Linked DNA regions of Homo sapiens. The protein of the gene in region 2 purifies or fractionates together with the protein of the main gene of each other region. This does not show direct contact. Each region holds a gene or a part of one and is shown on either strand. Other genes may lie near its edges.

Region 1 (3,822 bases), on a different chromosome or scaffold from region 2:
TTAAAATTAATACCTAAAGTTATTCTATCCTGGTACCATGTGAAAATCTGAATAAAGCCTTCAGGTTTATAAATCTAAATTGTACCTCTGGTATTTTTGACCTTAACAGTGACAAATAAAAAGGTTAAAGTGATACAGAAATAAAAGCAATAACAACAACAAACCAATAACTCATTAAGTGACTAAGACTTAAAATATATGTTAAGTGGAAAACAGTTATTTTTACTTACAAGTTAGTAACTGGCTCTCCTTTCAACGGAGGTAGGAGGTTTCCAGAGCCAATTAAACAGTTGTGCACTATAGTCAGACTCTGTAGAATATCATCTCTAGAAAAAAAAAAAAGACATTTTCATATTTCCAAATCCCTATTTAATAAGCCTGCTAGAGCCTAGCACAGAAGTTTTCTCACGTGGGGATATAAATGATTAAGGTAAAGAAATAGCAAATGTCTTCAGTTTACCAACTTAACAGTGAAGAACAATTAAATATATATTTATTGCTAACACTATGCCTGCTTACATTTAAACAGGCTCTAAGTAAATCACAAGTAACAATAATTAACTGCCCTTTGTGAAACAACTGTTAATTTAAGCATCCCTTTACCAAAGACCACTGCCACTAACAAAAAGAGGAAATAATGCTACAGAAGATCTTCCAGCTTATTCCATCTTTTAAAAATGGGACTAAACATTTACTTCCAAAAAGCAGTTCAGAGTACGACAGAGTTGATGTTAGTCAGTCACACTTCTTTCTCCAAGTGCATTCTTAAATCTGCTTATGAAAAATTTGTGGTGTTTGATACATTAATTTTCTTGCTATTATTTTAGAAACTTTCAAACTATGAAAGTCTAATGGTTTCAAATACTTATTTCTTGTTAAATACCTGTGGGAGAGGGAAAAAAAAATCTCATAAAAATAATTCTTAAAATAAAATTTTGAGAACCCAATAAAATCTTAGCTGAGTCTAGGAAAACAGGCATTCCTTTCAAAGGAGGCATATCTACACACACCTTCCAAAAGACAAGTGAAATTGCTAAGTAGAAGGTAATAAAAAAAATTAGAAAAAGAAACCCACAATTTTTGGGTTTAAAATGTTTAAATGTTGTTAAATTTTCTGTTATACAACATTATATTAAATGATTTTCTAAGTACATGTATAGCAGATTTTCAAAACACAATTGAAAATTAATACATGAGATATGCCACAGATAAAGCCAAAAAAGACTTCTTTAGTCTGCAACTGAATAACTCTAATTATAAAATAAAACCAACCTAGACATTTCAAGTTTTCCATCCCCACAATGCTGGAGTTTGACGAGCTCAGGCTGAAGAAAGGAGTCCAAAAGATAAAAGGCAAAAGACACTTCTTCTGAAGAAGGAACATGCCACTGGATTCCCAGATTCCACAAGTCCCCGGGTTTGCCCCAGTCCTAGAAGAGAACAGCATCTACTCAGCAAGTTGAGAAATTAAAAACAACAACAACAAACCCACATACATATACACAATTTTTAAAATTTAAAAGAAAATGTACACATAATCCAAACCTAAGGTAGCAAATGATATACAAAAAAGTAGCATGAAAACAACATCTTACTGCCTCTTCGTTATCACTCCTGAAAAAAGTCTCCCCGAAGAGTACTCATTATAATATGAGTTTGCTCTAAGAGTGATACTGTAAGAGTGATGATGAGTTTAAGTGAGGCTTAGTTTAGCAATAAAATTATATTGAACTATAGACATTAGATAAGGAATATATACGAAGTTGTTTCACATATCAATAGGAAAGAAAACTAGAGTTTCAGTTCCATGCAAAGTGAGACAGCACAAGTTTCACATATTCCAATAATAGTTTCAATAATCTATCTTAAAAGTAAAAAACTAACATATGCAAGAAAAAATAACACTTTGAATCCCTTAAAACAAAAAATCAACATATTCTTGAATCCTAAAGTACTGAAAATGCTTGCCTTGATAGGAAAGTATTCAGAAGGAGGCTTGTCAAAGCCACCTGGCACACTGCAGTATTCTGTAGGGTAGATAAGTGTGGTAGAACGGAGAAGATGATGCAAAAGGTTACAAGACAGAGTGTAACCCTGCTTACAGGTTAAATGTAGGGTTCTTTGGAGAATCTTTACAAGCTGCTCCCTATAAAGAAGCAACTTCCTTCCATCCACTCGAGTAATCTAAAAGGAGGGAAAAAATAGTTGAAGATATTTTGGTTAAAAGAACAAGAACCAATCATTAATGCAAAGTTCAATGTTTGGCCACTAACCTAGTGTTTCTCTAAATGACTTTAATTAATTTTAGGATTGTCACTTTAACTGCATTCTAATAATTAATTGTTTTTTGAAATCAAACACATTTTCTGAGCTTAAGCTTTCATGCACCATAGTAACATCCCTTTCAAAAGAGTCTATTCTATTCAAGCAATTCTCCTGCCTCAGCCTCCCAAGTAGCTGGAATTACAGGTACACGCCACCATGCCCAGATAATTTTTGTATTTTTAGTAGAGACAAGGTTTCACCATGTTGGCCAGGATGGTCTCTAACTCCTGACCTAGTGATCCGCCCGCCTCGGCCTCCCAAAGTGCTGGGATTACAGGTGTGAGCCACCACGCCTGGCCCTAATTAAACTTCTGAAAAAAATGATAAAGAAAACTGAAGTTGGCCGGGCGCGGTGGCTCACGCCTGTAATCCCAGCACTTTGGGAGGCCGAGGCGGGCGGATCACGAGGTCAGGAGATCGAGACCATCCCGGCTAAAACGGTGAAACCCCGTCTCTACTAAAAATACAAAAAATTAGCCGGGCGTAGTGGCGGGCGCCTGTAGTCCCAGCTACTTGGGAGGCTGAGGCAGGAGAATGGCGTGAACCCGGGAGGCGGAGCTTGCAGTGAGCCGAGATCGTGCCACTGCACTCCAGCCTGGGCGACAGAGCGAGACTCCGTCTCAAAAAAAAGAAAACTGAAGTTTGGGCCAGGCGCGGTGGCTCACACCTGTAACCCCAGCACTTTGGGAGGCTGAGGCAGGCGGATCACGAGGTCAGGACATTGAGACCATTCTGGCTAACACAGTGAAACCCCGTCTCTACTAAAAATACAAAAAATTAGCCGGGCGTGGTGGCGGATGCCTGTAGTCCCAGCTACTTGGGAGGCTGAGGCAGGAGAATGGCGTGAAGCTGGGAGGCGGAGTTTGCAGTGAGCCGAGATTGCACCACTGCACTCCAGCGTGGGCGATAGTGAGACAAAAAGAAGAAAAAAGAAAAGAAAAGAAAAGAAAAGAAAACTGAAGTTTGATTGATGGCCAAATTTAAAGTGTAGACCAAAAAAATTCCCAAATCTGATCAACTTTTTCAATTAATGAGTTACCCATATTAGAATTAACTGGTAAAACTAAGTAGATGGCTGAACATGCAGTGATCAACTACACCACTCCTTTGACAATAAGAGTATGACATATTCTGATCTTCTGAAGCCTCATCAAATTTCCAAAACTCTGACTTTTCATATGTTTTAAAGTCATTTTGTCAGAAAGAGCTAAATCCTAAAAGCAAGTCAGTGTTTTCACAGTCATGTTTCTTATTCCAAAGATTTACAATACCTCAGACAAAAGTTGAAGATTCCATAGTAATTCCTTGTCTAGCTCTTCATCATTTAATACATCATCATCTAAAAACAGCAAAATACTATTAGGGGGAAAAACCTATGCATTCAACTAAATATAGCATTTTAAAATACTTCTATTTAATATTTCCAATAGCTGAGGAAAACCTCTTTTAGGAAGACTTTTTATTTCTTCTTCATGAAGCTGAGCTTGTTCCAAAAGG
Region 2 (3,822 bases):
CGTGAGCCACCGCACCCAGCCAATCTTCACTTTTAAAAACAGTTAAAGAACAGTTACTACCATTAAACTTTATCTTAATGCAATGAATAAAGTGAACCCAATCAGCTGTAAGTTCCATGAGGACAAGAATTTTGCCTATTCTTTTTGCAGCTGTTTGCCTTTTAAATTACAAGGGCTCCATAAAAAGGTGCTGAATGACACTTACCATTAAGAATATCCTCAAATCCAATAGTCTCATCATTACCCCTCAAAACATCCAGTGAAAGATTTGAGCTTGAAAGAAATGGAAGACGCTGAACCTTTGGGGAAAAGTATGAAGGGACAAGATTAGAAAAAACTCAGGGGAAAATGACAGAATATATAGTCTAATTTCATGTTCTTTATTCTTTGTTTGAAAATTCGCAAAACCAAATACAAGATCAATTTAACAAGTGGAAAAAAACACTAGTTCATATTTTAGACACAAACTAAGTTGTAAAGACACTGAAATTATACTTTTCATTAACAATAATCCTACCTGGTGTGCATGTATTTTGAGGCTTTGCTTCTGCTCAGGAAAACTACGGCATATACCATGTAATGAAATGCAAAATCCCAGAGCTTAACATCACGCCTCATTCCTGATACATGTAGGATGATCAAATTCCTGAAGAAAGTCCAACTCAATAGGTTGCTTAGGCTGGTCTCAAACTCCTGGGCTCTAGTGATCCTCCCACTAAAACTGGGATTACAGGTCCATGTCACCAAGCCCAGCTAATGCAGATAATTTTTGATATTCCCACAGACTACCAAAATAGGTGGTCTTTGACTAAATGATAGTAGTATTTTAAAGATAATCACACCGTTAGAATCTAAGAGGGCAGTTTCTCACATTCCCCCCACCCCCAACAAAATGTATCCAGACTAAATATATTATTTTCAATTACTAATGTTCCATAGAGATATTTAAAATCTTTATAGTGTGGAAAAATTTCTCTAGATTGTCAAACCTAAAAAAAAAAAGGAAGTGGGAGGAAGAGGAAGAAACAAAAATAGGAACCTGTAAATTAAACCAGACAGCAAGGGGTCTGGTAGTTAGATCAGAGTACAGTCCTAAGAATGCATCAAAAGCAGGGAGGAGCAGGCAGCTGTTATACATCTTGACAACCCAAAACTGCAAAAGTATAGAGATAAGAAAAAAAAAAAAAAGACAGAGAATTCTGGGCAAAGATATTTGGATCAAATAGTATTAAAAACTTAAATCCAGAATTTGAGCAATCTGTAGTTGAAATCTGAGTAAGAGGAAAATAAAAAGGGAAGCTAACAATTTTGTGCCAAACATGTGATTTCATTTAATCTTCAGAATAATCCTATGCTACTCTTACTGTTCTCCTTATTTCACATTAAATTAAAAAATCTAAGGTTCAGAAAGCTCTCCAGCTTACTCAAGTTCTTAAGACTAGTAGATGGCTAAGCCAAGATTCAACCCTAGGTTACTCAAAACCATGTTTTTTAAGAGCTTTATCTTTGGAAAACGAGTAGCTTCCAGAATGACTTAGCCAAATACAATTGATAGTATTAGTAGAATTTATCTTATTATTATTTTTTTTGGAGATGGAGTTTTGCTCTTGTCGCCCAGGCTGGAGTGCAATGGTGTGATTTTGGCTCACTGCAACCTCTGTCTCCTGGGTTCAGGCAATTCTCCTGCCTCAGCCTCCCGAGTAGCTGGGATTACAGGCACATGCCACCAGGCCTGGCTAATTTTTGTATTTTTAGTAGAGACGGGGTTTCACCATGTTGGCCAGGCTAGTCTCGAACTCCTGACCTCAGGTGATCCATCTGCCTCGGCCTCCCAAAGTGCTGGGATTACAGGCATGAGCCACCCAGCTCGGCCAATAGAAATTTATTGAAAAAGACAATTTAGCTAGGTCAGAGAAAGGAATCTGCACCAGTAGGAGAAATGTGTGCAAACGCCTAACAGTGAAAGAACTTAATGAATTAGGAAACTGCAAGTAGTTTAAGAGGATAAGAAGTGTGGTGGGAAGCAAGGAGCCAATTCATGGACAGAGCCACACTAAGTGTTGGGTTTTATTTTTATTTAGAGGGTAAAGTGAGGGGAATGACATAATCAAATCTGTGTTTTACAAAGATTATTCTGATTAGAGTCTTAACAAGGATTGGAGGGGCAGCAGGGATGAGTGTTGCAGTAATCCAGATGAAGTCTGACAGGGGCAAGGACCAGCATAGTAGCAATGGTGGGGAGAGCAAGTAATAAACTGAATGATTTGGGGGAGCAGGGGAAGAGGTTAGGATGGGTGCTAGGTGACATAACCAAGGCTAATTATCCAATTTCTGCCTTAGGCAGAAACCTATTCATATGGGATAAGGAGTATGTGGGGGATTATGGGATTATGAGTTATTCTGTACTTGTCCATGTAAAACTGGAGGTGCCTGTGGGACTTCCAATTGGGCTTTCCAATTGGAAAAGCCTATAGGTTTATAGCTCATGAGAATTGTAACTTGGGGGTCATCAACATATTTTATTTTTTGAGACGGAGTCTCATTCTGTCACCTAGGCTGGAGTGTAGTGGCACGATCTCGGCTCACTGCAACCTCCGACTCCCAGGCTCAAATGATCCTCCCACCTCAGCCTCCTGAGTAGCTGGGACTATAGGTGTGCACCACCACGGCTGGCACATTTGTTGTATTTTTTTTTGTAGAGATGGGGTTTTGCCATGTTGCCCAGGCTGGTCTTGAACACCTGAGCTTGAGTGATCCACCCACCTTGGCCTCCCAAAGTGCTGGGATTACAGGTGTGAGGCACCACGCCCAGTTGGAATCATCAACATATAATTGATAACTAAAGCAACAAGTAGGAAATAGGGTCAGGAAAGGACTAGAGATGGGGCACTAACAAAACTGGCATTTTAGGAAACAGGCAAAACAAATGGAACCTACACAGAGACACCTGAGAACAAGGATTCAGAAAGGAGGACATCAGGAAAGTGTGGTGTTCTAAAAGCCAAGGAGGTGGGATGATAGCTTGAGGCCAGGAGTTTAGGACCAGCCTAGGCAACATAGCAAGAGCCCGTTTCTACAAATCATAATTTTTAAAACTAGCCAGGCGAGGTAGCAAGTGACTGTAGTCCCTGCTACTCAGGAGAGTGAGGCAAGAGGATTGCTTGAGCCCAGGAGTTTGAGGATGCAGTGAGCTATGATCATACCACTGCACTCCAGCCTGGATGACAGAATGAGATCCTGTATCAAAAAAATAAATACAAAGTAAAAACATAAAAGCCAAGGGAAAAAGGAAGAAGCCATTATTAGTGTCAAATACTACAGGGAGATGAAGTAAAGTGAAGGTAAAAATGTCCACATTGTTCAGGAGCAGTTTCATTGGTGTCATGGGAGACAGAAACAGTGGGTTAAATAAATAGCAGGGAAAGGAGTATAGAAAGCAAATGTAGACAACTTTTCAAGAAGCAAAAGCACACTCAATGAGAGACAAGTTACTATAAAGGAATTTGAAATTGATACAATTTTTTTTTGTTTTAAAAGACAACAGCGGTTCAAATGCTACTGCTGAGACAGAGCAAGCAGAGAGGGGTTAAAGATATCAGCTTGAGAAGGCATCATTGATAAAGGGATTTTCCTGAAGTAATGTAACAGGATAGAATCCAAAGCACAGGTAGGAGGGTGGTTCTTACATAATTGGAAGGACATTTTCCAAGTACTTATTCCTTAGAAACAGGTATATTCAACTATATACAAATTGTATACTTGACACCTCCACTTGGATATTCTTAGAGGGATCTCAAATTCAATGTAATACATAAAAAAAAA

What was found.
Region 1: the proteins of POMP (region 2) and PSME4 fractionate together in Homo sapiens (co-fractionation; one large-scale study listed by IntAct). This does not show direct contact.

Annotation. Positions count from the first base shown.
Region 1 is NC_000002.12:53,918,921-53,922,742, forward strand, and holds part of PSME4 (proteasome activator complex subunit 4), read right to left. Parts: intron 3,665-3,822; coding exon 3,597-3,664; intron 2,185-3,596; coding exon 1,969-2,184; intron 1,431-1,968; coding exon 1,273-1,430; intron 327-1,272; coding exon 231-326; intron 1-230. UniProt on the Homo sapiens protein: Associated component of the proteasome that specifically recognizes acetylated histones and promotes ATP- and ubiquitin-independent degradation of core histones during spermatogenesis and DNA damage response.
Region 2 is NC_000013.11:28,668,816-28,672,637, reverse strand, and holds part of POMP (proteasome maturation protein), read right to left. Parts: intron 300-3,822; coding exon 206-299; intron 1-205. UniProt on the Homo sapiens protein: Molecular chaperone essential for the assembly of standard proteasomes and immunoproteasomes. Degraded after completion of proteasome maturation. Mediates the association of 20S preproteasome with the endoplasmic reticulum.